Linked DNA regions of Homo sapiens. The protein of the gene in region 1 interacts with the protein of each later gene in a pairwise test. Each region holds a gene or a part of one and is shown in the gene's direction. Other genes may lie near its edges.

The links.
Region 2: the proteins of TRIM46 (region 1) and USP32 interact in a two-hybrid assay, tested with the Homo sapiens proteins (one large-scale study listed by BioGRID).
Region 3: the proteins of TRIM46 (region 1) and UBE2Z interact in a two-hybrid assay, tested with the Homo sapiens proteins (one large-scale study listed by BioGRID and IntAct).
Region 4: the proteins of TRIM46 (region 1) and UBE2U interact in a two-hybrid assay, tested with the Homo sapiens proteins (one large-scale study listed by BioGRID and IntAct).

The regions. Positions count from the first base shown.
Region 1 is NC_000001.11:155,176,591-155,184,499, forward strand, and holds part of TRIM46 (tripartite motif-containing protein 46), read left to right. Parts: intron 1-341; coding exon 342-485; intron 486-604; coding exon 605-700; intron 701-1,411; coding exon 1,412-1,665; intron 1,666-1,901; coding exon 1,902-2,023; intron 2,024-2,218; exon of another isoform or gene 2,219-2,256; intron 2,257-3,041; coding exon 3,042-3,344; intron 3,345-3,844; coding exon of another isoform or gene 3,845-3,912; exon of another isoform or gene 3,913-4,089; intron 4,090-5,261; coding exon 5,262-5,559; intron 5,560-7,206; coding exon 7,207-7,600; 3' UTR 7,601-7,909.
Region 2 is NC_000017.11:60,222,651-60,231,001, reverse strand, and holds part of USP32 (ubiquitin carboxyl-terminal hydrolase 32), read left to right. Parts: intron 1-4,770; coding exon 4,771-4,963; intron 4,964-7,415; coding exon 7,416-7,591; intron 7,592-8,351. UniProt on the Homo sapiens protein: Deubiquitinase that can remove conjugated ubiquitin from target proteins, such as RAB7A and LAMTOR1.
Region 3 is NC_000017.11:48,920,365-48,925,406, forward strand, and holds part of UBE2Z (ubiquitin-conjugating enzyme E2 Z), read left to right. Parts: intron 1-795; coding exon 796-908; intron 909-2,482; coding exon 2,483-2,573; intron 2,574-5,042. UniProt on the Homo sapiens protein: Catalyzes the covalent attachment of ubiquitin to other proteins. Specific substrate for UBA6, not charged with ubiquitin by UBE1. May be involved in apoptosis regulation.
Region 4 is NC_000001.11:64,260,673-64,268,146, forward strand, and holds the end of UBE2U (ubiquitin-conjugating enzyme E2 U), read left to right. Parts: coding exon 1-22; intron 23-6,351; coding exon 6,352-6,536; 3' UTR 6,537-6,696; downstream 6,697-7,474. UniProt on the Homo sapiens protein: Catalyzes the covalent attachment of ubiquitin to other proteins.

The DNA.
Region 1 (7,909 bases):
CTATTCTAGGTGTTGGAGATACAGCAGTAAACAAGATGGACAAGGTTAATTATTAACTACCAGGCAAAGATTAATTGGCATCATTATTACTGTTATTACCATATATCCCAATGAGAGAGATGAAGGGAGGTGCAATGCTGGTGAAATGGGCACCGCCCGGAGACTGCAGGAAAGGCTCTTTGATGCCAGTATGTACCACCAGGTGGCACTGTGGAGCACCACCAGCGGATGTCTCCACTCCCATCTTGCCAGTGGAGGAGGGCACCAAACTGCTGTAGTGGTAGCATAGCACCCTTACCCACACCATTGTCTGACCATCACATTGTTCTTTGTGTCCCTAGGGCCTTATGTGCCCAGACCACAAGGAAGAGGTGACCCACTACTGCAAGACATGCCAACGCCTGGTATGTCAACTCTGCCGGGTGCGGCGCACCCACAGCGGGCACAAGATCACACCAGTGCTCAGTGCCTACCAGGCCCTCAAGGTAAGGACCCCCCTTATCCAACCCTAGTGCTAACTCACACTCTTACCCTCTTGCACCTCCTCCCAACTGCTGGCTTCTGCAGAGCTGGGCTTGATGCCCACCTCTTTCTTCCCCCTCAGGACAAGCTGACAAAGAGCCTGACATACATCCTGGGAAACCAGGACACGGTACAGACCCAGATCTGTGAGCTGGAGGAGGCCGTGAGGCACACCGAGGTGAGGGAGGGCACAGAGGTAGGCCCTGGGCCCTGCCTGGGAGTAGGGGCAGGAAGGGGGTGTGGGTGATCATGACCCAATCACCTTGTTGCTAGCTCAGGAAGCCCGTGAGGTGTCCAGGTTCTGGTTAAACCAGGTTTGCAGGAACACCAGTGCCCCAGGCCAGGCTGTACCTGGGCTGCAGGAGGGGGCAGGGTGGCTATAGCTCAGGAGAGTGCTCGAAAAACCCCATGCATAGCTCAAAAAACCCCACGCGTAGCTCAGATGCTCTCAGGCTCAGGTGCCTACCGAGGATGTCACGCATTCCCAGTGCTAGAGTGAGGTGATGACTGATACCTTCTGCCAGGTTGCTTGAGCTGGCTGACATGGGGATGGACAACTAAGGATGGCATAGATGCCAGTGGACATTAATTAGTGCAGTCCAAGTGGACATTAGGGTAGCCATGGCCTCGTTCATTTGGATGAGTCACTAAGGGGCAGAGATTATGATGTGGGGTTCCGGGAAGGTTGGCACAAATGACCAGGAGTTGAGTCCATCTAGAGGTGCCTTTGCAGCCATGAGCCCAGGCCCTGTAGGAATGGGTGAGTAGGATTTCCCCAGATCCCTTGTGACCTTAGCCATGCTGTGGCATCCAAGGAGGCCAGCACAAGTGCTGCCTCCAAAAAGAAGATAGTAAGTCACGCATCCTTTGGGTGTTGCTCCCTGGGCAGGTGAGTGGTCAGCAGGCCAAGGAGGAGGTGTCGCAGCTGGTGCGGGGGCTGGGGGCTGTGCTGGAGGAGAAGCGGGCATCACTGCTTCAGGCCATTGAAGAATGCCAGCAGGAGCGGCTGGCCCGTCTCAGCGCCCAGATCCAGGAGCACCGGAGCCTGCTGGATGGCTCAGGTCTGGTGGGCTATGCCCAGGAAGTACTTAAGGAAACAGACCAGCCTTGCTTTGTGCAAGCCGCCAAGCAGCTGCACAACAGGTACTCAGGGGCATGGGCTCCTAGGGGGGCAGGGACATCATGGATGTGACCAACATCTAGGACAATGTCTACAGTACTGCCAGGTGGAGAACTGGCATTCTAAGGATTCTCATGAGGCCAAACTGATACCAGCTCCCAAAGCAGTTCCCAAGGCTCTAGGGGCAAGCAAGACAGAATTGAGGGGAAGGGAGACTGCCCACATGGCAGTGCCTGACCCTTTCTTGCCCCCATCCCAGGATTGCCCGAGCCACTGAAGCCCTCCAGACATTCCGGCCAGCTGCCAGCTCCTCCTTCCGCCATTGCCAGCTCGACGTGGGACGTGAGATGAAGCTGCTGACAGAGCTTAACTTCCTGCGAGGTAAGGAGATGGCCAGGCCCCATGCCCAACCAGAGCCTTCTTCCCTTCCTCCCCAGCAGCGGGCCCGGGGGGCAGTGCCTACCGGGGACCTCCCCGGCCTCCTGCCCGGCCTGGCCAGCCATTCCTCCCACCCAGCCCACCCTGCCACACCGTCCTACCGCGCTCAGCGCTGCTTCTCCCTCTCTTTGTTTGTAGGCTGTGGCCACCGCGGACTCTGCTCCGGAGCACCCCAGGCAAGTCAGCGGCCCTGCCCCGGGGGCCCTGCCCGCCGCCGGGCCCCCTTCCCACCCCGCTGCTCCCACGCATCTCAGCCAACCACTCATTGCTTCCTTCTCTTTCCTGCCTTGCCCCGACCTCGTGGTCCTCCCACTGGACCAATGCCCTGTCTCCCTTCTGCCTTCTTCAGGCGCTTGCGTAATCCTGGCCCTTCTGACCTTTTGTCCTTGTGACCCTTGCCCTCTGGCCTTGCACTTCCTTTCCCTTGACCTCCAACCCCTGCCCTCAGCTTTTGCTGTCCCTCTGTTGTCCCCACTTTCCACCTCGCTGCCTCCTAAATCTCTCTTCTGAGCCTGGTCCCCTTCCTTCCTGCTCAGCGCCCTCTTGCCTGTGGGCTCCAGTGGCCTTTGCCTGCCCCTCCCTGGGGCTCCTCTTAATTCATAGAATAACTGAGCTGCAAGGGCCCCCAGAACTTACCTGATCTGATACCCTCATTTGACAGGGGAGGAAACTGAGGCCCAGAAAGGGGAAGTGACTTATTCCAGGCCAGAGTGAGGTAGCAGCAGCCCAGAACTAGCACACAGGTGTCCTGACCCCCAGCCCAGCGCTTTCCTGCCTCGTTCTCTCTTGGGCCCTGCCCTACCCCTCCTGTGCCCAGTTCCCAGATGAGCCCTTCCCCAGCTCCCTCTCACCCACACTCACCCCCCCGGCTCCCGCTGCTTTCCCTTTTCCTGCCTGCCCCTGCCCTCCATGCCAGGCCAGTGGCCAGGCCCTGACTGACACCCGCTGTCTCTTCCAACAGTGCCTGAGGCCCCCGTCATTGACACCCAGCGCACCTTTGCCTATGATCAGATCTTCCTGTGCTGGCGGCTGCCCCCCCATTCACCACCTGCCTGGCACTATACCGTTGAGTTCCGGCGCACGGATGTGCCTGCTCAGCCAGGCCCCACCCGCTGGCAGCGGCGGGAGGAGGTGAGGGGCACCAGTGCCCTGCTTGAGAACCCCGACACGGGCTCTGTGTATGTGCTGCGTGTCCGCGGCTGCAACAAGGCCGGCTACGGCGAATACAGTGAAGATGTGCACCTGCACACGCCCCCGGCACCTGGTGAGTGGGCAGGCACAGGTGGTCGTGCAAAGGGCATGGGGTATGCCAGGGCCTAGGCCCTGACGGTTGGTTCCGGTGGCCGCTAGAGAGGCCATATAACATAGTAGGTCTCACACACACTAGCTCTGGAGCTAGACTGCTTGGGTTCAAATCCCAGCTCTGCCTCTTGCCAACTGTGTGGGTGGCTTCTGGCAAGTTTTTACCCTCTCTGAACTTCAGAGTCCTTTTCTGTAGGGATAACGATAATACTGGCCAGGTGCAGCGGCTCATGCCTGTAATCCTAGCACTTTGGGAGGCCAAGGAGGGAGGATTGCTTGAGGCCAGGAGTTCAAGACCAACCTGGCCAACACAGCGAGACCCGATCTCTAAAAAAATAAATAGGCCAGGCGAGGTAGCTCATGCCTGTAATCCCAGCACTTTGGGAGGCCGAGGCGGGCGGATCACAAGGTCAAGAGTTTGAGACCAGCCTGGCCAACATGGTGAAACCCCGTCTCTACTAGGAATACAAAACTTAGCCAGGCGTGGTGGTGCGTGCCTACAATTCCAGCTACTCGGGAGGCTGAGGTAGGAGAATCGCTTGAACCTGGGAGGCGGAGGTTGCAGTGAGCTGAGATCGCGCCACTGGACTCCAGCCTGGACAACAGAGCAAGACTCCGACGTCTCGGAAAAATAAATAAATAAATAAATAAATAAAGGCCAGGCAAGGTGGCTCACACCTGTAATCCCAGCACTTTGGGAGGCCAAGGTGGGTGGATCCCCTGAGGTTGGGAGTTTGAGACCAGCCTGACCAACATGGAGAAACCCCATCTCTACTAAAAATACAACATTAGCTGGGTGTGGTGGCGCATGCCTGTAATCCCAGCTACTTGGGAGGCTGAGGCAGGAGAATTGCTTGAACCCAGGAGGCGGAGGTTGCGGTGAGCCGAGATCGCGCCATTGCACTTCAGCCTGAGCAACAAGAGTGAAACTCTGTCTCAATAAATAAGTAAATAAAATACGTAAAAAATAAATTATTTTTGGCTGGGCACAGTGGCTCACGCCTGTAATCCCAGCACTTTGGGAGGCCGAGGTGGATGGATCACGAGGTCAGGCGTTCAAGACCAGCCTGGCCAACATAGTGAAACCCCGTCTCTACTAAAAATGAAAATGAAAATAATTAGCTGGGTGTGGTTGCAGGCGCCTGTAATCCCAGCTACTTGGAAGGCTGAGGCAGGAGAATGGCTTGAACCTGGGAGGCAGGGGTTGCAGTGAGCCAAGATTGCGCCACTGCACTCCAGCCTGGGGAACAGTGTGAGACTCCGTCTCAAAAACATATATATATTTTTAAAAAATGATAATGCTTACCTCATAGAGTTGCAAGAATTCAACTGGTTTGAGACGATCAATGGGAGTCTGAGTACAGTGTCCGGCTCATGGTTAGGGCTCAAGAATGTTACTAAAGTGACTAGAAAATAGTTCGGACTCCAGGGGGTGGGCATAAGAGGGAAGCCTTGCCACCCAAATAGGGGCTGGGTATAAGGGCCAGGTGTGAACCCAGAGTATGGGCTGGAAGGCACAGATTGATGGTGATGGGAATGTCACCAGGTGGAACAGAATAGTGGGAACTGTCCATGGGGCTGGCCACAAGTAAGGGGTTCGAGGGAGCCCCATGAGTCAGCCAGGTCCGGAGCACTGACTTCTGTGCCCACTGCCATCACAAAAACTCTCTGGGGTCCCACGCCCATTTGGAATGCCCCCTTCTTTTTTCCTCATGCCCCCCATTCCAGTTTCCCATGTCCTGTTCTCCTGAACCCCCTGCCTGTTCCTGGTGACTGAACCCCCTTGCAACGCGTTCCCTGTTCTGCAGTCTCACAGCCCCCAGTGCCAGTGTTTGTCCCTGAAGTTCTTGCTCCATCTCAACCCTCTCCCTCCTTCCAGTCCTGCACTTCTTCCTCGATAGCCGCTGGGGCGCAAGCCGAGAGCGGCTGGCTATCAGCAAGGACCAGCGAGCAGTACGGAGTGTTCCAGGGCTGCCCCTGCTGCTGGCTGCTGACCGGCTGCTGACCGGCTGCCACCTGAGTGTGGATGTGGTCCTGGGCGACGTGGCTGTGACCCAGGGCCGCAGCTACTGGGCCTGCGCCGTAGACCCAGCCTCCTACTTGGTCAAGGTGGGCGTCGGGCTGGAGAGCAAGCTTCAAGAAAGTTTCCAGGGTGCCCCCGATGTGATCAGCCCCAGGTCAGACCCCTCTGGAAGGGATGGGGTGTGGGGGTCCTGGTGGGAGTGAGGGGCACAGAAGGGGTGGCAAGTGGAGCACAGACTTGCTAGGGTGGGGCTGGGAGGGGATTAGGAGGAAGTAGTAGGAGCCTGGAAGCCAGGCTGGGAGGCCTGTGTCCAGGAGACGCATGGGCTCAGCAAAAGGGCTTTTGAGGACTGATTTTCAGAGCATGTCGTGTGGTCAGGGAAAGGGATGATAGAAGAGGGAGCCATCTCTGCTTCCTTCCAACCATCTGTCACTCTGGATCAACACACCATCTCTCCAAGCATCTGTGTCCTTTCTTCCTAACACTCCATTTCCAACATACCTTCTCCATAAAACCTTTGCTCTCCAAGACCTCCTTCACCCGTATCTTAAAATTCTTCCCTTAGCCGGATGCGGTGGCTCACGCCTGTAATCCCAGCACTTTGGGAGGCTGAGGCAGGCAAATCACTGGAGGTCGAGAGTTCGAGACCAGCTTGACCAACATGGAGTGACCCCATCTCTACTAAAAATACAAAAAAAATAGCTGGGCGTGGTAGCGCATGCCTGTAACCCCGGCTACTCGTGAGGCTGAGGCAGGAGAATCACTTGAACCCGGGAGGTGGAGGTTGCGGTGAGCCAAGATTGTGTCATTGCACTGCAGCCTGGGCGACAAAAGCAAAACTCCTTCTCAAAAAAAAAAAAAAAAAAATTCTTCCCTTAAACATCCCACCTCCATAACCCTCCTCTCCCCAACTCCCTGTTTTTTTTTTTTTTTGAAATGGAGTCTCGCTCTGTCGCTCAGGCTGGAGTCTAGCGGCGCGATCTCCGCTCACTGCAAGCTCCACCTCCCGGGTTCACACCATTCTCCTGCCTCAGCCTCCCGAGTAGCTGGGACTACAGGCACCCGCCACCATGCCCAGCTAATTTTTTGTATTTTTAGTAGAGACGGGCTTTCACCGTGTTAGCCAGGATGGTCTCAATCTCCTGACCTCGTGATCCGCCCACCTTGGCCTCCCAAAGTGCTGGGATTACAGGCGTGAGCCACTGTGCCTGGCCCCAACTCCCTATTTAACACCCTCCCACTAATGCTTTGCATCCTAAGCCTTCTCCCCAGCACTCTATCCCCCAACACCTTATTTCTTCAAAATGCTTTCTCCCCAACACAAACCCCTCCTAAACCCCATTGTCCCCAACCCCGCATACCTCTAACACCCTTCATTTGTGACACCAATCCACCCTCATCTCTCTCCCGACACCCACCTTCCCAACATCCTTTCTCTTCTTAGTCACTAATCTCGGATTCTTCCAATGTCCTCTAATCCTCAGAACCATCTCCCCAGCATGATTTCCCCAAGACCATTTTTCTCAATGCCTTTCCGCGGGCTATACCAATGCCATGTCTTTCCTGTCCGCCTGCCCCTCTCTTGCCAATGTGCTTTCCTCTCAGTGCTCTCTTTCCACCAAACCCAAACCCCTGACCCTATACTCTAACCCCTGCCTCTTCAGCGTTTTCTTCTCAACACCCAAAATCCATCCCTTCAACCTCTTGCTCCTTAACATTCCATCCTTCCAGCGTCTCCCTCTGGTACCTCATCCGTCACTCCATCCCTCAACAATCTCGTCCCCAACACCCGCTTCTGCAGGTACGACCCGGACAGCGGGCACGACAGCGGTGCCGAGGATGCCACAGTGGAGGCGTCGCCACCCTTCGCTTTCCTAACCATTGGCATGGGCAAGATCCTGCTGGGGTCGGGGGCAAGCTCAAACGCAGGGCTGACAGGGAGGGATGGCCCCACAGCCGGCTGCACAGTGCCCCTGCCACCCCGCCTGGGCATCTGCCTGGACTATGAGCGGGGCCGGGTTTCCTTCCTGGATGCTGTTTCCTTCCGTGGGCTCTTGGAGTGCCCCCTGGACTGCTCAGGGCCTGTGTGCCCTGCCTTTTGCTTCATCGGGGGTGGCGCAGTACAGCTCCAGGAGCCAGTGGGCACTAAGCCTGAGAGGAAAGTCACCATTGGGGGCTTCGCCAAGCTGGACTGAGCCTTCCAGGCCCCTCATGCAGACCTGGGGTCCTCCTGGGCCCTGGCCCCCAAACCTCTTGGCACCCGGTTGTTACCCCCTGGCAGCTTCTCCCCCAAACTCTCCTACCATGTGGCCCTGCTCCTTCTCCCGTGTCTGTCTTCCCACAGTTTTCTCTTGACCCAGGGGCTCTCTTCTGCCCACCTCTCTGGATGGCCCCCGTTCTCTCCATTGCTTGTTAGCCAGGCCCCCACCCCCACTGAGTCTGCCCTATGACCTGCCTTTGGCATGTTACCCAAGCCATGGAGAGAGCCCCTTCTCCATCCCTGT
Region 2 (8,351 bases), on another chromosome or scaffold:
GTTCTAGGATAATTTTGAATAGTTCCAGACCCCTGAAGTCAATAAAAACAAAACATGATCCTTTGATGTTTTAGAAAAACAAAAATTTCCGCAAGCAGCCAGAAATGAACAGTCAAAAAAAGCTAGTGACTCTAAGATTCTGCAATATATAACTGTGATTGGTTTGTTCATCTTATAGAAGGAAAGTGGTAATAAGATTAATCGGATGAAAAGGTAGCTATTTCACTGAAAGCCAAGAAGGGTAGAAGGAACAAGAAAAATAAGCGTGTAGGAAGGGGAAGAAGGAACCTGAGTTGTGCTGACAGTTTCAGGCAGTGGAGAACAGTGAGAGCATCAGGTTCCTGTAATAGAAAAGAAAGCCGAAGACAATGAGAAGACAGACCAGTCTAGTTTGTTTGGAGCATTGGAAGAGAAGCAAAGAAAAGCCCATATTCTCCAAGTCTAAAGGTTATTACTCACTGTACCATGTTAAAAGCATGTGGTAGAACCGCAGTTGCTAGAGGCAAATGTTGCAATCTCTGAGAAGTTATTAGAATCATCCTGTTCACAAATTATTATAAAATTTAGCCTAGCAAATTTAATGCCTGGTAATATTTTTATTATCCTGTTTTCTTGCCAGTGATATATATAGATTTAACCTATGGACTGAGCTCTTCAGAATGAGAAGCATTATTACAGGAATGGTTTCATTTACATTTTCTTTAGAAACATAGGCACCATGTAAGACTTTCAAACATGTTAAAACATTTAAGATACAATTCCAAATATTACTCCTTGAAATTCTCTTACATGCCCATCTTAGAGGAAAACTTGAAGAAAATTGTTTGCTCAAATAGACCCAATCTTCCTCAAAATATATTACTACAAATTTTTTAGAAAGTAATTTGTGGTCGGGCGCAGTGACTCACGCCTGTAACCCCAGCACTTTGGGAGGCCAAGGCAGGTGGATCACCTGAGGTCAGGGGTTCAAGACCAGCCTGGCCAACGTGGCGAAACCCTGTCTCCACCAGAAATACAAAAATTAGCCAGGCGCAGTGGTGCGTGCCTGTAATCCCAGCTACTCCGGAGGCTGAGGCAGGAGAATTGCTTGAACCCAGGAGGCAGAGGTTGCAGTGACCCAACATTGCACCACTGCACTCCAGCCTGGGCAACAAAGCGAGACTCTGTCTCAAAAAAAGAAGGAAAAAAAAAGTAATTTGTAATGCATCAACTTTATATAAATGGAATATAGAAGTGAGTATAAATTTATAAACGGATTACCTTGCCAAAAATGTGATGGTTATTGAAACATCATTTAAGATCACTTATAGCAAAACTAAAGTGATTTTTCTGGAGGAAAACAAAGTGACTTGGAAGACTTTAATTTTTCTCAAAGGTGGCGCTGTTACTCTTTCAAAATGGTTTTGCTGTCTGTCTTGCTCCATCTTTATGGGCAGGAAGCAAATGACCTGAAAACTAAATAAATCTAAATCTTCTTCTAAAACACAAGTTCCAGAGCAGGTAGCAGATTTAATAACAAGTCAATTTCTAAGCTCTTAACATCTGGAGCACATTATAAAAACAAATGCATGAGACTATAATCCTCACTAGGGCAATAGTTATTAATTCTGGCTGCATATGTAGTGAGATCACATAGAGAACTTTAAAAATGAAAAAATGCCTTTGGCCGGGTGACTCATGCCTGTAATCCTAGTACTTTGGGAGGCCAAGGCAGGAGGATTGTTTGGATCCTCCAGGAGTTTGAGACCAGTCTGGGTAACATATTGAGACCCCATCTCTATGAAAACTTTAAAAATTAGTTGGGCATGGTGATGCATGCCTGTGGTCCTAGCTGAGGTGGAAGGATCACTTGAGCTCAGGAGTTCAAGGGTATAGTGAGCTATAGGCGACTGAGCAAGACCCTGTATTAAAAAAAGAGCCTTTGCTATACTCCAGACTAAAAAAATCAAAAAGCATAAGTGAAAAAAAAAAGTTGAATTGATTTAAATAATAAGGCATTTATGTTTATGGAAAATTTTCTTTTGAAACCTAATTTAACCAGGTGAGGTGGCTCACACCTGTAATCCCACCACTTTGGGTGACTGAGGCAGGAGGATTACCTGAGGCTAGAGTTTGAGACCAGCCTGGGCAATACAGTAAGACTCCATTTCTACCAAAAAAAAAAACAAAAACAAAAAAAACAAAGAGTCTCGCTCTGTTGCTCTGGCTGGAGTGCAGTGGCATGATCTCAACTCACTTCAACCTCCACCCCCTGGGTTGAGGCCATCCTCCCACCTCAGCCTCTCAAGTTACTGGGGACTAAAGGTGCACACCACCATGCCCCACTATTTTTTTTTAATATTTTTTTGTAAAGACGGGATCTATCCACGTTGCTCGGGCTGGTCTCCAACTCTCCTGAGCTCAAGTGATCCAGCCACCTTGGCTCCCAAAGTGCAGGGATTACAGACATGAGCCACCATCCCTGGCCAAAACTTGTTTTAATTAAAAAAAAAAAAAAAAAGAAAAAGAAAAAAGAAACCTAATTTAAATGTCATGTATTTTGTGTTGGTATGAATTCCATATTAGAAAAGCTGTGAGAAGCTTGATATTATCTTTAAGAAAATTAACACTTAGGACTAATTTATACTTCTTTTTTGACATAGATCATTTTGGTTCTACTGTCTTGTCTACAGGATTTTGGTTTCTAGGCCAGGCACAGTGGGTCACGCCTGTAATCCCAGCACACTGGGAGGCCAAGGCAGGTGGATCACTTGTGTTCAGGAGTTTGAGGCCAGCATGGTGAAACCCTGTCTCTATTAAAAATACATAAATTAGCTGTGTGTGGTGGCAGGTGCCTGTAGTTCCAGCTACTCAGGAGGCTGAGGCAGGAGAATCATTTGAAGCTAGAGGCGGAGGTTGCTGTGAGCCGAGACTGCACCACTGACCTCCAGCCTGGGCGACAGAGCTTGACTCTGTCTCAAAAAAAAAAAAAGAATTTTGACTACTTTGGTGAACCATCTAAATTTTAAAAATTGATGGTCCAAAATTCATATGTAATATAGATTCCTACTTCTTAATCATTTTTTTAAACTATGGTCACCATTTTTCTCATGTAATGCCATACAGTTAACTTACATAAATAATTATGCCATTTTTACTTAAAATTTAAAAAAATTTTTTGGCTACTAAAGTGAAGCAGTGGTAACAGACAAGGAACAAAGAAATTTATAACTGTTTGTGATTAATTAGTTATTTAATCATATTTTCAAAGGAAACTTTATATCACTACTTTAAGTAGAAAACTTATGTCCACTGGGCACAGTGGCTCACGCCTTTAATCCTAGCCCTTTGGGAGGCCCAGGCAGGAGTATTGCTTGAGGCCGGGAGTTCAAGACTGACCTAGCCAACATAGCGAGACCCTGTCTCAAAAAAAAAAAAAAGAAAAGAAAAACTGAATGGGCATGGTGGCTCACGCCTGTAATTCCAGCACTTTGGGAGGCCCAGGCGGGCAGATAACCTGAGGTCAGGAATTCAAGACCAGCCTGGCCAGTATGGTGAAACCCTATCTCTATGAAAACTACAAAAATTATCTGGGCTTGGTGGCATGCACCTGTAATTCCAGTTACTCGGGAGGCTGAGGCAGGAGAATCTCCTGAACCTGGGAGGTGGAGGTTGCAGTGACCCGAGATCACGCCACTGCACTCTAGCCTGGGTGACAGAGTAAGACTCCGTCTCAAAAAAAAAAAAAAAAGAAAAAAAGAAAAGAAAACTAGTGTCGCTTGCCAGAAATAGAAGGCAATAATATTATTAAATTCCAGCTAATAGTGTTGCCTTTTGAAGACTCTGCTATTTAGGATTGTTCTCTCTTTGTTAAAAAGAGAAATAGAGAAAATATGAAATGTTAGATTAGCATATTAGCACTATATAAACAATACAATGTTTGGTGAAAGAAAAAAATATGATTTTTTTTTTTTTTTTTTTTTTTGAGACAGAGTCTCACTCTGTTGCCTAGGCTGGAGTACAGTGGCGCAATCTCAGCTTACTGCAACCTCCCGGGTTCAAGTGATTCTCTTGCCTCAGCCTCCCGAGTAGCTGGGATTACAGGAGCCCTCCACCACCCCCAGCTAATTTTTGTATTTTTAGTAGAGATGGGATTTCACCATTTTGGCCTCCTGACCTCAAGTGATCCATCTGCCTCGGTCTCCCAAAGTGCTGGGATTAAAGGTGTGTTCAGTTATTGTAGAAGGTCACATAGGTATAAGTCATAGCATTGCCCTTCACTCTATGTACATACACCACTCATCTTTTACATATATACATATTTTTCAGTCATAAGAACTAAAACACAGTTATTGCTAAATGATGGAATCTGAGTACATGTGATATTTTCTTCATGTTTTCTATATTTTCTACATTGACCATGTAATCTTTAATAATAAAAAAATTATATACATTCATGTACTATGGGAAATAAGGAAGAAAAGAAAAAAATTTAAGCTTTATTTACTTTTAATGTTAAAAAAATGGCTGCCAACAGAATAGAGTGTAAATTACTTTATGTGGCACAAAATCCTTCACAGTCTGTTTTGTCTACCTTGCCAATTTTATCTATATACATACTTTTCCTCCTGAAAGAGATTAAAATATAGCTATGTATTAGAATGTTTTTAAATGTCTGTGGCCAACCACAGGAGACTTAAAAAAATAGATAATTGTGAGATTTGTTTCTGAAGACTACATAGTTGTCAGATTATAAACTTTGCTTCTTATTCTCTGATTTCCTGATTTTAGGATGCCAACCCTGTGGTAATTGAGCCATCATCTGTTTTGAATGGAGGAAAATACTCATTTGGAACTGCAGCCCATCCTATGGAGCAGGTCGAAGATAGAATTGGAAGCAGCCTCAGTTACGTGAATACTACAGAAGAGAAATTTTCAGACAACATTTCTACTGCATCTGAAGCCTCAGAAACTGCTGGCAGCGGTAAATATGACCTATTCCCCTGAGGTTTATTGGTTTATTCCCCCTGGATAGGTCTTTCTTTTCTTTTCTTTTTTTTTTTTTTTTTTGAGACTGAGTTTCACATTTTGCCCAGGCTGGAGCGCAGTGGCGCGATCTCTGCTCACTGCAACCTCCACCTTCTGGGTTCAAGCGATTGTCCTGCCTCAGCCTCCTGAGTAGCTGCGATTACAGGCACCCGCCACCACGCCTGGCTAATTTTTGTATTTTTTTAGTAGAGATGGGGTTTCACTATGTTGGCCAGGCTGGTCTTGAACTCCCAACCTCGTGATCTGCCTGCCTCGGCCTCCCAAAGTGCTGGGATTACAGGCGTGAGCCACCATGCCTGGCCTCCCCATGGATAGTTATTAAGGCAGTCTAATTTGACAGAGGCTGTAGTGAATATGGTAATAGGAGATCAGGCTTCCATTAACAGAAATAAGTTTTGAATGAAATGGTCAATTGTAAAATTCTTGAATATATTAGTATTTTTACAAAGAAAACCTCTTTTCCATATTATACTTCATTAAATCTCTCAATATGGAAATATTTTCACTATTTTCTTTTGAGACAGGATCTCGCTCTGTCACCCAGGCTGGAGTACAGTGGCATAATCACGGCTTACTGCAGCCTCTGCCTCCTGGCCCCAAGCAATTCTCCCACCTCAGCCTCCTAAGAAGCTGGGACTACAGGCACGCGCCACCATGCCCAGCCATTTTTTGTGTGTTTTTATTTTAGGGATAGGGTTTTGCCATGTTGCCCAGGCTGGTCTCAAACTCCCAGGCTCAAGCAGTCCTCTGGCCTCAGCCTCTCAAAGTGCTGGGATTACAGGCATGAGCCATCACATGCGGCTATTTTCACTATTTTCATCAATCAAGCCCCATCTTTCCCTATTGCTATTAAATTATTTAGTCAGTAAATTTAAATTTTCAAAGATAGTCATCTCCAGGACTCTCTCTAGCCATAAACATAATTAAATTAAATGCACCCCACATCAGATTCTATGTATATTTCAGGCCAAAATATGGAGATTATTTTGTTAAAATACTGAGAAAGAATTCAGATGCCTCCCATAATTCCCTTTAGGCCTTGGTACTTACCTAAAACTTCATGTTTCCACACCTACAAGGAAGATGCTGTGGTATTTCTATGGCCCAGCTGAATTGAGTTGATTGCTGTTATTCTGGTACAGTAGCAGAACCCTCAATCTTACCCTATTGTTATTTATTTATTTACTTAAAGAGACAGGGTGTCACTCTGTTGCCCAGGCTGTAGTGCAATGGCATGATCATAGCTCACTGTAACCTCCAGTTCCTGGGCTCAAATGATCCTCCTGTCTTAGCCTACCTGGTAGCTGGGACTACAGGTGTACACTGCCACACACAGCTAATTTTTTAATTGTTTTGTAGAGACGAGGTCTCATGTTGCCTGTGCTGGTTGCAGTCTTCTGGCTTCAAGCAGTCCTCCAGCCTTGGCCTCCCAAAGTGCTGAGATTACAGGCATGAGCCATTCCTCCTGGCGTGTGTTATTATTTCTTCCAAGATGTTCTTTTCCTTTTCTGTGGAAGGTGTAAGCAAATTGGACAGAGCTAGCATTTTCTTCACAAAGCTCCTTGTAGAATCTGCTTCTTCCCTCCCTTTCTGGTATTACAAAGATCACTTAGCAGTCCTAGAAGTGCTGTCATCAGCTTTAACATGAGGATTATTTCTTAACCCCATCTAAAGATCCTGTTTGGTATGTGCTTACCATATAACTTGTGACACCCAAAGGCTGCATACCACAGGCAGAAGGTTACAAAGTGATGACTGCTAGATTGTTTACCAAAGATTAGCATGTAGTTGAGAGTTGAAATGGCTTAAAATACCACTGAGGCTCACAACTCTAAGCCATGGTTAATCATCTTCTGTGCATATTTTCGTATTGTAAAGATCATGTATTTCTTTCAAAAGAACTTGTGGACATTGAGTTCATAGATACAATAGGATCTAGCCCCCATTACTCTTTTGTTGGAGTTCTTGTTTTAGTTTTCTTTTAATTTAGTGACTTCATATCACCATTATCTACCAAGAACATTTGGAATATTTTTCTAGTTTGAGGAAAATAATTAAAGGATGCTATGTAGAAGCCCAGCCACTTAGCCCAGCTCTTCCCTTCCAGTCGGAGGACATATAATTCTCATTATGAATTATTAGATATTCTAGGAGGGTGGCCAAATGTTCATTTGGTAATAATTTTAAAAGCTCTTATTTTTAGTACCATGCCATGTATTGTTCAGAGAAGGATAACATTTCCTGTCTTCTACAGAATTACCAGAATCTTAATCTGTACTGACATGTCAACAGAGTAATACAATACATGGGCATTGAGTTCATATCCTCAAGCCTGTTTATGTATAATAACTAAAAATAAGAGATTCTATCCTCTTTTTTTTTTATAGGCTTTCTGTATTCTGCCACACCAGGGGCAGATGTTTGCTTTGCTCGACAACATAACACTTCTGACAATAACAACCAGTGTTTGCTGGGAGCCAATGGGAATATTTTGTTGCACCTTAACCCTCAGAAACCAGGGGCTATTGATAATCAGCCATTAGTAACTCAAGAACCAGTAAAGGTAAGTAATTTTACATCTAAACTTAAAATTATTCTCTTGCAAGCTATTAATAAATTTCATTTCAGAGGTTTTAGCACATAGCAAAACATTGATGGTTCATTTAATTACTGTATTATAGATGGACATCTCTTTGTATAGTACATTTCTGTGAGAATATTTATGATTTAGAACTTACATAGAAGTAGTTTAGTAACCCTTGGCATTATTGTTATTCTTACTTAGGACAGCTATTCTGAAAATGTTGTTTCACATACGCTATGTATGAATTTTTTTTTCCAAACTAGTATTTTTTATTGTTTGAAAGAAATCTGTGAAGTTATTTCAAGTGCTTTAGTGATTTTTCCAAATGATATGCTTTGAGTTTCATTTCTTACATAGTTTATTTTGAAAGTCAAAAATAAAAATCTCTCATTAAAAATTCAGTTTTTTTGCTGGACGTGGTGGCTCATGCCTGTAATCCTAGCACTTTGGGAGGCTGAGGTGGGCAGATCACCTGAGGTTAGGAGTTTGAGACCAGCCTGGCCAACATGGTGAAACCCCGTCTCTACTAAAAATACAAAAATTAGCCGGGCATGGTGACGTGTGCCTGTAATCCCAGATACTCGGGAGGCTGAGGCAGGAGAATCACTGGAACCCGGGAGGCGGAGGCTGCAGCAAGCGAAGATCGCGCCACTGTACTCCAGCCTGGGTGACGGAACAAGACCCCGTCTCAAAAAAAAAAAAAAAAAAAAAATTAAGTTTTTCCAGCAACATGAAACTG
Region 3 (5,042 bases), on another chromosome or scaffold:
AGGCGCCTGTAATCCCAGCTACTTGGAAGGCTTGAGACAGGAGAATCGCTTGAACCCAGGAGGCGGAGGTTGCAGTGAGCTGAGATCGTGCCATTGCACTCCAGCCTGGGTGACGAGCAAAACTCAAAAAAACAAATAAATAATAAAAAATAAAAACTCGGGGCCCACCATGGTGACGAATGTCTTTAGTCCCAGCTACTCAGGAGGCTGAGGTGGGAGGATCGCTAGAGCCCAGGAGTTTGAGGATTGCTGGAGCCCAGGAAGTCAAGGCTGCAGTTAGCTGTGATGGTGCCGCTGCACTCCAGCCTGGGCAACAGCAAAGACCCTGTCTCCAAAAAGAAAAACTGAAAAAACAGGAACTTACTTTGTTGTCTAGGCTGAACCCAAACTCTTGGGCTCAAGTGATCCTCACACCTTGGCTTCCTGAGTAGCTGGGACTATTAGTTTATGCCACCAGGCTTAGCAACCCTACCATCATTCTTATGTTTGGTTATTTCCCACATAATCTTTACTTGATAGACCTTTCACTTCACATTCAGGAAAATATGATGGATCTAGTTTGCTGGTGATAGGCCAAATGACCTGTAACCTGTTGGTATATTTGGAGGGTGGTGGAGGTGAATGGTGTCAAAAATAAAGGTGTGGTTGCTCTTCATGGATCTGCCATACAGTGGGAAAGGTATCTTTTTAGTTTGTGTGACTGGCTGACATACCCCATACTAATCTTGAAGTCCCTTCCCATTGGTTTTCTTTTTGCTTAATTTTTGGAATACTCTGGCATCTGTTACATTATAGGAGAGACATCCAGGAGACAGCAAAAACTATAATGAATGTATCCGGCACGAGACCATCAGAGTTGCAGTCTGTGACATGATGGAAGGAAAGTGTCCCTGTCCTGAACCCCTACGGTATGTGTCAAGCGGGCTTGCTTGGTATTCCTTTCGGGCATTTGGGTAGTTGGCATCTTTGGGGCAGAGTACAGTGTTGGGTACCAGAGGGAGATAGAGAAGAAGGAAAGATGTGGTTCCTGCTTTTAAAGAACAAGTGGCTGAGGGTTACCCAAGAGGAAGTTCAGAGAGCTACTCTGTTGTTGGAGAATGCCATGCCTTTGGGAGAGGCAGTCCACACGCTCAGGGAGCTTCCAGTTTGATGAAGGCTTGGACGTACTTTTTTCCAGCCAAATGTGTAGAGTACTTCATAATAAGACTCATTTCTTAGTGCTGAAGTTATTTTTAAGTGCCAAAACTGGATGAGCAACGTCAGGGTTAAATAAATAAACTTCTAGGAGAATTTTGAGTAAGGTTTGGGATTGGGGATGGCTGATGAAAAGCAATGGAGGTGGAGCAAGTCATGAGTTGAAGTTGGGATTCAAATGGTGAGTATTGGCTTGGTGGTGGCTCACGCCTGTAATCCTAGTACTTTGGGAGGCTGAGGCGGGAGGATCACTTGAGCCCAAGAGTTCGAGACCAGCCTGGGCAACACAGGGAGACCCCATCTCTACAGAAATTTTAAAATTAGCCAGGTGTGATGGCACGCTCCTGCAGTCACAGCCAGTCAGGAGGCTGAGGTGGGAGGATTGCTTGAGCCTAAGAGGTTGAGGCTGCAGTGAGCTGTGATGACACCACTGCACTCCAGCCTGGGTAACACAGCAAGACCCTGCCTCAAAAAGAAAACTAATGGTGAATATTACAGTCACACTCATAATTCCTGATGTGTAGGGGAAGTCAACCACGGGCAGTTAGGTGTTCCTTTTTCCAAAAGGAACTGTAATCCCAGCACTTTGGGAGGCCAAGGAAGGCAGATCACCAGGTCAGGAGTTCAAGACCAGCCTGACCAACATGGTGAAACCACATCTTTACTAAAAATACAAAAATTACCCGGGTGTGGTGGCACGCACCTGTAATCCCAGCTACTCAGGAGGCTGAAGCATGAGAATCACTTGAACCTGGGAGGCGGAGGTTGCAGTGAGCCGAGATTGCGCCACTGTATTCCAGCCTGGGCAAAAGAGCGAGACTCAGTCTCAAAAAAATAAAAAATAAATAAAATGAAAAGATCTTTGTAGAAAACAGATCTGGACTTGGGAATGGTAGGTATTTAATTTGGCATTAAGGTTAGGTAAAGAGGCCAGGTGTGGTGGCTTGCGCCTGTAGTCCTAGCACTTTGGGAGGCCGACGCAGGCAGATCAGTTGAGGTCAGGAGTTCCTGACCAGCCTGGGCAACATGGTGAAACCCCGTCTCTACTAAAAACAAAAATTAGCCAGGCGTGGTGGCATATGCCTGTAATCCCAGCTTCTCAGGAGGCTGAGGCAGGAGAATTGCATGAATCCGGGAGGCAGAGGTCACAGTGAGCTGAGGTTGCACCACTGCACTCCAACATGGGCTACAGAGCAAGACTCCATCTGAAAAAAAAAAAAGGTTAGGTAAGGAAGGGGTGACCTGTACCCCTGGGTTTCTCACTTACACTTTTCTGCTTGTTTTCCAGAGGGGTGATGGAGAAGTCCTTTCTGGAGTATTACGACTTCTACGAGGTGGCCTGCAAAGATCGCCTGCACCTTCAAGGCCAAACTATGCAGGTAATACAACCCCTGCTGCTAATTGCAGAAGCCCTACAGCTGGCCATGTAAAAGCCCCCCACAAGCGTGGCATCGACAGCTGTCATAGAATGACACAGCTAAGCCTGGGTTCAGTGGCTCATGCCTGTAATCCCAGCACTTTGGGAGGCCAAGGCGGGCGGATCACGAGGTCGGGAAATTGAGACCATCCTGGCTAACACGGTGAAACCCCGTCTCTACTAAAAATACAAAAAATTAGCCGGGCATCGTGGCGTGTACCTGTAGTCCCATCTACTCAGGAGGCTGAGGCAGGAGAATCACTTGAACCCAGGAGGCAGAAGTTGCAGTGAGCTGAAATTGTGCCACTGCACTTCAGCCTGGACAACAGACCGAGACTCTGTCTCAAAAAAAAAAAAAAAAAAAAAAAAAAATAGCCAGGCGCGGTGGCTCACGCCTGTAATCCCAGCACTTTGGGAGGCTGAGGTGGGCAGATCACCTGAGGTCGGGAGTGTGAGACCAGCCTGGCCAACATGATGAAACCCCGCCTCTACTAAAAACACAAAAAATTGGCTCAGCGTGGTAGCATGTGCCTATAATCCCGGCTACTTGGGAGGCTGAGGCAGGAGAATCGCTTGAACCTGGGAGGCCGAGGTTGCAGTGAGCTGAGTGCACTCCAGTCTGGGCAACAAGAGCGAAACTCGGTCTCAAAAAAAAAAGCTAAAAGCAACCTATATCATTTGAGGGACTGAGAGCCAGAGAGGAGACTGATTTTCATGAAGTCATAGGGAACTCTTTACTTTCCTTGGTCAGTAGCCTCTTTTTTTTTTTTTTTTAAAGGCAGGTTCTCACTCTGTTACTCAGGCTGGAGTGCAGTAGCTGGGTCACAGCTCACTGCAACTCCAAACTCCCAAGCTCAAGCAGTCCTCCCACCTCAGCCTCCCAAGCTGGGACTTACAGGTGTGCACCACCACAGCTAGTTTTTGTTTTGTTTTGTTTTTTGAGACAGAGTCTTGCTCTGTTGCTCAGGCTAGAGCAATCTCAGCTCATTGCAACTTCAGCCTCCCAAGTAGTTGGGATTACAGGCATACGCCATCATGCCCAGCTAATTTTTTGTGTTTTTAGTAGAGACGGGGTTTCACCATGTTGGCCAGGCTAGTCTTGAACTCCTCACCTCAAGTGATCTACCTCCCTCGGCCTCCCAAAGTGCTGGGATTACAGGCCCTGTTTTGTTTTGTTTGGTTGTAGAGATAGGGTCCCACTCTATTGCCCAGGCAACTCCTGGGTTCAGGTGATCCTCCTCCCTTAGCCTCCAAACTGGGAGGCTGAGATTATTACAGGTGTGAGCCACTGCACCCAGCCCATAGTGTTTTGAAGCTAAGATGCGTTCAGCCCTCCCAGAATCTTAGGGATTATATGAATCCTCTATTTAAATTCTGTTCCCAGCCCTGAGGGTTGATCACAGAAACAGTAGCTTAGAGAAACAACATACCTGTAGTGTCACATGTTGAAAGATTCCTATTCAAAGATGATAACCATTGTTCATTCTTTGCCTCTACTGGGAAAAGTGTGCTTTTGCTTCCCATAAGAACTCAAAATTTAGGCTTGTTTTAAGGAAGGAGGCTATCATTGACCAAATTGTAGATAGACAGCCAGGTGCGGTGGCTTATGCCTATAATCCCAGCACTTTGGGAGGCAGAGGTGGACAGATCTCTTGAGGCCAGGAGTCCAAGACCAGCCTGGCCAACATGGTGAAACCCCATCTCTACTAAAAATACAAAAATTAGCCAGGCATGATGGCTCATGCCTGTAATCTCAGCTACTTGGGAAGCTGAGGGATGAGAAATGCTTGAACCTGGGAGGCAGAGGTTGCAGTAAACTGAGATTGCACTACTGCACTCCAGCCTGGGCAACAGAACAAGATTCTGTCTCAAAAAAAAAAAAAAAAAAAAGACAAAAATTATAGATAGACTAATGTAAACCACCTGGTTGGTAAGAGAATGAGAATTCTCCTGTCCTGGAGAATCAGTTCTTGGGTGTTTGGATCATCTTACTGGTGGTCTTGCTTAGAAATGGGATACTCGTGGGGCCTGGCGCAATGGCTCATGCCTGTGATCCCAGTACTTTGGTAGGCCGAGGCAGACAGATCACTTGAGATCAGGAGTTTGAGACCAGCCTGGCCAACACAGTGAAATCCTGCCTCTACTAAAAATACAAAAATTAGCCAGATGTAGTGGTGCGTGCCTGTGGTCCCAGCTACTTAGGAGACTGAGGCACAAGAATTTTGCTTGAACCTGGGAGGTGAAGGTTGCAGTGACCCGAGATCACGTTGCACTCTAGCCTTGGCGATGGAGCCAGACTCCACCTCAAAAAAAAAAAAAAAAAGAAAGAAAAAGAAATGGGAGACTTGGATAATTGACTAAGATTTCTTAAGGCTCTCTCCAGCTCTCGTACTATGTCTGTTCACCCACCCCAACACCAACAGCGTAGGAG
Region 4 (7,474 bases), about 91 Mb from region 1:
ATTAAGCTCTGCCCAACTCTAAGTAAATCGATTCACTCTATTTGTTTTGCTTTTATAAATAACATATTATGCATAATATGCATAACTTTAAACTTTTTTCCATTTAAGTAAGTTGGAATATATGAGGGCTAATCCTTGTGTTCTCCTTTTAAGGTTGCTTTAACTTTTTCTGACTTTCCAAATTAATTTGGTAAATTAGTCACATAGGAATTGGAACTTTGACAGAATTGAGTTACTTATATTTTCAAGCTTACTACCCTTTAATAGGTTGATATACAATTTGAAATTTTAAGGCTAAGTTTCAAAATATGAAAAAGCAGCCAAAACACACAGAGCACTAATAAACTGATCCCTAAAACTCATTGTATATTCAAAGGTATATGCAATATGGTTGAAAAGAAAGAAACAATGCTGAGTTGTTTTTCGTGCTCTTTTAAAAATTACCATTTACTTGTTGGGATAGGTTGAGAGTGAGTCTTCAGCCGGGAGAGCTGGTAACTTACCATGGAAGTCAGCTGGTATAGAGGGGAAAGCATGACATTTGGGGATAGAGAACTTAGGTTCAGATTCCAGTTCTGTGCTACTATGGAAAGGTCACTCAACCTCTGAACTTAGTTTTTTTCATCCTTAGCTAGTACTGTGTATGTGGAAGATGTTCAACAAATCCTAGTTGCTAAAAATCTGCCCTTACTCACAGGATTCTTATGACTAAGTGACTCCATGTATAGACAATTTCTTTGTGAACTGAAAAGTACAAAAAAAAATAGTTACTGTTTTTTCCTGTCACCTGGCCACTAAACATAACAGCATATAAATGCCAGGCACAGGCAATCACCTTCATTCAGTGATTCTCCAAGGGCCCTGCCCCCGTATCTCCAAGTTTCTTTTCCCTGCTCAGTATCCACCTCTCTCCCTCCTAATTGTTTGGTGTGCCACGCAGATTTCCTCCTCTGTATTATCAGCCTCAGCCTTCTCCATTCAACTCTCCCTTCTTCCAGATTTCAGGGTACCTGTGAGGTAGGAAATGTTGCCTTCTCCAGCCTTGCTCTTTGCTTTCTCCATGATTTCCCTACTCCCCTCTGCAATCTCTGTCTTTCAACATCCCCACCATGTTCACCAGTGGAAGAGATCAGTTGGTTAAGTTGATGTGATTACAGTAATTTTTGTCTATGCTTTGTCAGACTGGTGACAAAGCTATGTCTCTATAGCTCAGCTCTGCTTATGTTTTTACCAGGTCTAAAATACTTTGTTTCCCATTTTCCTTCAGGATAAAATTTAGACTCTTTGACACAGAAAATCCTTAATGCTCTAATACTTGTCTCTGTCTTTGCAGTGACATTCCCTCCCTCTCCCCTTCACAACCTAAATGCTACACTAAGCTAGTGGGTCATGATTGTTTGTTCCCTACCTCATTTCATAAAAAAATTTGAGCAGTACACTGTGTTTTCTCATACCCCTACTCTAAATGCTCTTCTCTCCCCTTCTTTACTTTCTAATGCCTATGCATCCTTTGAGATTCAGTTCGGGTATTACCTTTTTTAGGAAACTTTCTTTGTGGGTTATCATAGCACTTCTACCATAGCCGTATCATGCTCTATTTGTTTTCTATTGCTGTGTCACAAATTAGCACACATTGAATGGTTTAAAACAACACACATTTATTATTTTACTGTTTCTGTGGGCCTGGAGTACAGGCACAGCTTAGCTGAATCCTCTGCTTAAGGTCTCAGAAAGCTGCAATCAAGGCTTTGGCTGGGCTGCATTCTCATCCTAGTGGTTTGAATGGGGGAGGAATCTGCTTCCCAGCCCAGTGAGGTTGTCGACAGAATCCATTTTCTTCTGTCTTTAGGAATGAGGGCCCTGGCTTCTGGCTGGGTATATGTGGGAGGCCTCCCTCAGCTGCTGAGGGCTGCACACAGTTCCTTGCCATATGGGCTCTCCCAGCCTGGCCTCCTACTTTATCCAGCAAGAGTCTTTAGAGCAAGTCTGATAGCAAGATGGAGTCATATGTGATGTAACATAATCATGTGAGTGAGACCTTATCACTTGCATCCTATTTTATTGGTTAGAAGTCATGGGTCCTATCCACACTCAGAAAGGAGGAGTTTACACTCAGGTGTAAATACCAGGATGCAGGGATTCTAGGGGCCATCTTGGAGTCTGTCCGGCACACATGCTGTGTTATTACTCTCTTTACTGCCTGTCTCCTTTGAAAAAGAGTGAGATTCTTGAGGGAAGGGACTGCTCACCTCCCAGTCTTCCACAGCACAGTGGTTGGCATACAGTAGCTATCAATGAGTAAGTAAATAGTAGGATGAAGTAAAATTGTCATGTTTTTATCTGCCTTGTGATTTGGGGGAAAAAAAGGTGAAAACCCATGATAAGTGGGGAAAAGGCAAGTTGGAAGAGACAACATTTTAAGTTTAATGTCCAGAAACTGGTTAGCGCTCCAGTGCTGAGCCTTGTCCTCTTTAATCATGGAATAGACTCCTTTCTGTCTACTCTGGAAGAAACTATACCTGAGAGGTTGTGGTAAATTTGATTATTGTTCAGAAATATTAATTCCTGCTCCACCTACATGAACAAAACATGTTTCCTTGTGCCTTGACTTTGAGCTTTTCCCTGTGACCTGTTTTCATCAGTGGAATATTAGTGGGTGCAGTGTGCCCCCAGGGTTTGGAAAGGGTTTGCATGATTTGGCTTGCTCTTTTTCTCTTCTGCCATCATCACCAGAGCGTGCCTGGACTGGCCCTCTGATCACAGAGAAAGATTCAAGGCATAGATCTGAGCTTGCCCACCCACGTTTCCCAGCCATTCCCCAGCCAAAGAAGCCAACCACCTATTGACCTGCTGACATGTGACCAAAACAAATACTTATTGCTGTATGTCACTAAGATTTTGTGGTTGTTTATTATGTAGCAAGAGAGTTATTATGTAGCGAGAATGAACTTATATAGGATATCAAAGGGAAGTATGACTCAGAAAAGGAAAGAATTGTGTGTCCCTCTTTTGCAGAGAAGGATGGCATGTCATAGTTTGCCAGTGGGAGAAACTCACCAGAGATTTGGCAGGTGGGAGGGAAGTTGAGGACATTATGCTTGGGAAGTTGTTCATATCAGGCATGGCGGGTTCCTCAGATATGGCATTTTCACACATCTCTCCACAGCCTCACTTCACAGACATGGTGGCTGCACAAATATCCCCATGAACTCATTGTTTTTGTCCCACTTTGGGTGGCTAAATGTGTGCAGCCTCTTGTACTCTATGAGCTCCTGGTTTCCCACTCGTGTCAGTGCATCAGACTAAAGTGGGTCACGACTCTTTTTTCAATTCTCCAGCTGTAGCTTCCAGATCTTCACTCCCCTGGGTCCTCCCACAGCTGGATAATCCCACATTCCTGTGTTAGACTCTCACTCTTGTATTACTTGTAGTGGCTCTGTTTTCCTAACTGAACCCAGGCTGAAAACAGGACTGAATAGAAATAAACCATTTGGCAATCATCAAAGCCCATCAGTCAGCACAGATTTTAATATCTTTATTAGCTAAACTATTTTCAGATTAAAAATAAATTATCAGAGGCAGAGTTTCCATGATCCAACCCAAGAAAGGCATGGAAAATATAAGGCAGTTAGAATTTGTGCTTCCATAACTTATTTTGTTAACATAGTAACAAAATCCCCACCTTTATTACTGATTCCAACCACCAAATCCAAGGTGTCTCAGAGAGATTTATAATGCTTAAGATTTCCTGGAGGAGAGAAATTCAAAATAATATTGTTTTTTATGTTCTAAAGAAACATTTCTATATTTATTTTGCATTATAGTCTGCTGATCTAGCCAGGTTTCTTTTTATGCTTCCTGGGAGTTTTTAACAGGGCAGGAACTAAGAAGGCAAATAGTCAAGGTGGTTGATTCCCAACTTTCATTCCACGCCAGCAACTCACGTCAGCCAATCATGGTGATCCCATTTCCCTTCCCAGTAACTAGTTTAGAAATGGGGCGGGGCGCAGTGGCTCACGCCTGTAATCCCAACACTTTGGGAGGCCAAGGTGGGTGGATCACCTGAGGTCAGGAGTTTGAGACCAGCCTGGCCAACATGGTAAAACCCCATCCCTACTAAAAAAAAAATTAGCTGGGCATGGTGGTGAATGCCTATAGTCCCAGTTACTTGGGAGGCTGAGGTGAGAGAATCACTTGATCCCAGGAGGCAGAGGTTGCAGTGAGCTGAAAGCACGCCACCGCACTCCAGCCTGGACAATGGGAGTGAAACCCTGCCTCAAAAAAAAAATTAAATTAAATTAAAATAAAAGAAATGGCATGTGACAGGATCCTGCTTGAGGGGAAATATGCTGGGCACTTCAGGGGATGGTTTTGCCGTCCACTCTTAAAAATGAGATCTTGGTGAGAAGATCGCTTTTTCCCCTGGATGTTGCTGTGTCCGGTGTGGTTACTAGAATGGCCGTAGCTCTCTTGCTATGCACCTGAAGATGAAGACAACACCTCAGTTAGCAAAGCAAGCAGTAAGAAGAGCTGTGTCCTTCGTGACATTGTGGAGTCACTGAAAACATTCAGTCTTGCTCTCCACTCTGGCTTTTCTCTTATGTGAGATAAAACACTCTCCTATTGTTTAAACTGGGTTGACTTGGCTTTATATTTCTTGTAATCAAAAGCATGTGGAGTCAGAAAGGCCCAAGCATGGTTAGAAAGAACTGGAGTTAGTCCATCAATAATATGTTCATGGAAAATAAATAGATGCTTTTCTCAAGGCACAGACAGAATTTAGTTTTAAATTAATTACAACTAAATATTAGTACCGAAAGTACAAAAAATTAAAAATCACTGTGGGCCTCAGGATAACCATAGGATAATGGTGACTGTGTAAACTCACATCTCTCTGTGTATCTTTCTCTCTTTGTTTTGTTTTGAGAGGGAGTCTCACTCTGTCACCCAGGCTGGAGTGCAGTGGGTCAATCTCAGCTCACTGCAACCTCTGCCTTCCGGGTTCAAGTGAGTCTCCTGCCTCAGCCTCCAGAGCAGCTGAGATTACAGGCTCCTGCCACCACACCCGGCTAATTTTTGTATTTTAGTAGAGACAGGGTTTCACCATGTTGGGCAGGCTGGTCTCGAACCCGTGACCTCAAGGGATCCACCTGCCTTGGCTTCCCAAAATGCTGGGATTACAGGTGTAAGCCACCATGCCCGGTCTGTCTGTGTATCTTTCTATAAACCAAAGACAGAAGGAAAACAAGTCACTTGTAGCCCATGTCTATAACATTAGAAGACAGCAAATATTACAGGGTTTATTTCATGTGTGAGGGAAATAAACATATGAGGCAAACAAAATTTGTCCTGGAACCCATAATCAGCAGTGAATCCGGTGACAACTAGGAAAAAGGGAAGAGAATGCAGTGAGATTTTAGAGTTAACAGAACATAAATAGTACCAGCTAGAGTTCATCCCCAGAAAGCAAGGTCCCCATGCTGTGTAGAAATATACATCTAGAAATATAGACATTATATCTATATTCTCCTTTTGAAAAGTATAATCAGTTTATTTCCCTGTTTACAAGGCCTATAAGATAAAGATGAAAGTCCTTTGCATGACATATGAGGCTTTCCTGATCTGGCTTCAGCCTCCCTTCCAGCTCCACGAAACTTTCTGTATACTATAACATTGTGTTTTTGGATAGACAGATCTGGGACGAGTCTTGTTATTAGCTGGATATCTTTGATCAAGTTACTATAGGTTGCTCAGCCTCAGTTTCCTCATCTGTAAAATAAGAATAATAATACCTGCCCATCACAAGGGTTGTGTCTGAGTTAAATAATATTATAGCTGTCGACGGGTTAGCACCGCACCTGGCACAGTGGAAGCGCGGGAGAATCCATTCTGATCACCCCTAACCCTGTCAAGTCCTCTCATACCTTTGTGCTTATACGATGTGTGCTGTTTCTTCTATCTAACATGTTCTGACCTCCCTTCTCTGTCTAACAAACTGGTCTTCCTGTTTCAAAGTCCGACTCAGTTTTCACTTAGACACAGTGATTCCCTCCCTGTGCTCCCAAAGCAGCTTTTCCCTTGCACATCAACTGGCCCTTAGCAGAGACCCAGTAAATATATATGCTAAATGAATGAACTAACAAAGCATCAAAAGATTGAGCAAAATGGAAAGAATGATTTTTGACAAATAAAGTTACTTACAAAACATGAAGTTTAGAAAGTGTATAAAAGGTTGCTCACATTCATTCAGATGGTCTTTGGCATTATCCTACAAATGCAGGAACACTTCTCTTTTTATTGTTTTTCTTATTATGTCTATTAAATTTCTATTTTTTATAATTCCCACCACAGATGAAATTTTTCTTGAGTCACCAACTGCAATAAATAGCATCACAGACATTTATGAAACAGAAGAGGAGGGGTGGAAGAGTGACACTTCATTATATGAAAATGACACAGATGAGCCCAGGGAAGAGGAAGTGGAAGATCTGATCTCCTGGACCAATACTCTCAATACAAATACTTCAGAAGATTAAGCAGAACATTATCAGATTCAAAAAATAAACAGCCTCCGCCATAGCCCAGCGTTGTGGAGCAATTTTGGAAGACTCTCAGAACTTGGATTTCATTTTTTTTAAGTTGTTCTCACCCACTCACTGCAAGTACAAATTAGAAATATAAGTACAAATCAGTAAAGATGTTGCTTTGACTTTTTTGAGTGCTACTCCTTTAGAACAAAGTTACCAAAGTTAGGGGTGTTCATTGCCATATGCCAATCAATGGTGTCACACTCCCACAGTTGTTAGGCTACTGGACACAAGTTTTTGCAGGCAGAGAATGGGTCAGAAAGAGGTTGGGATAGGAGGGGAGCAATTAAAAGCTTCAGAGGCTGGACATGACCCCAAGTAGCGGGATCTATACATGGACCTACATCTGCCTAGTTTCTTGTCTTGTTTCCTCCATATTCAAGGAATGAGATGTCGCTATTTACTAATGTTTCTCTTCTGTTTTATCCCAGAGTACGTGCCATTTTCTCTTAAACCTTGACCTATCTCCTCGTATTCTTATAACTTTATTTTCTCTGTCTCTTTTTGCCATATTGTCTCAACCTACACATGTGCTTTGGTCTCTCCTATTCTAAAATATGTCTCTGCCTTTGACCCCCAACTCTGCTTGCCTCACCAGTATTCACTCATTTTTCTCAGTCAGATTTATTGATCTGCCTTCCGGGTTCAATATTTAGCTAAATATTTAGCTAGCCAGGAAAGTGTCAAGAGACCAGATATGTGTAGTAGAGCTTTCTGGTGGCACATGCCCATAGTCCTAGCTACTCAGGAGGCTGTGGTGGGAGGATTGCTTGAGCCTGGGAGATCGAGGCTGCAGTGATCTGTGATCATGTCACTGCACTCCACTCTGGGCAACAGAGCAAGACCTTGTCTCAAAAAAAAAAAAAAACAAAACAAAACAGAACAAA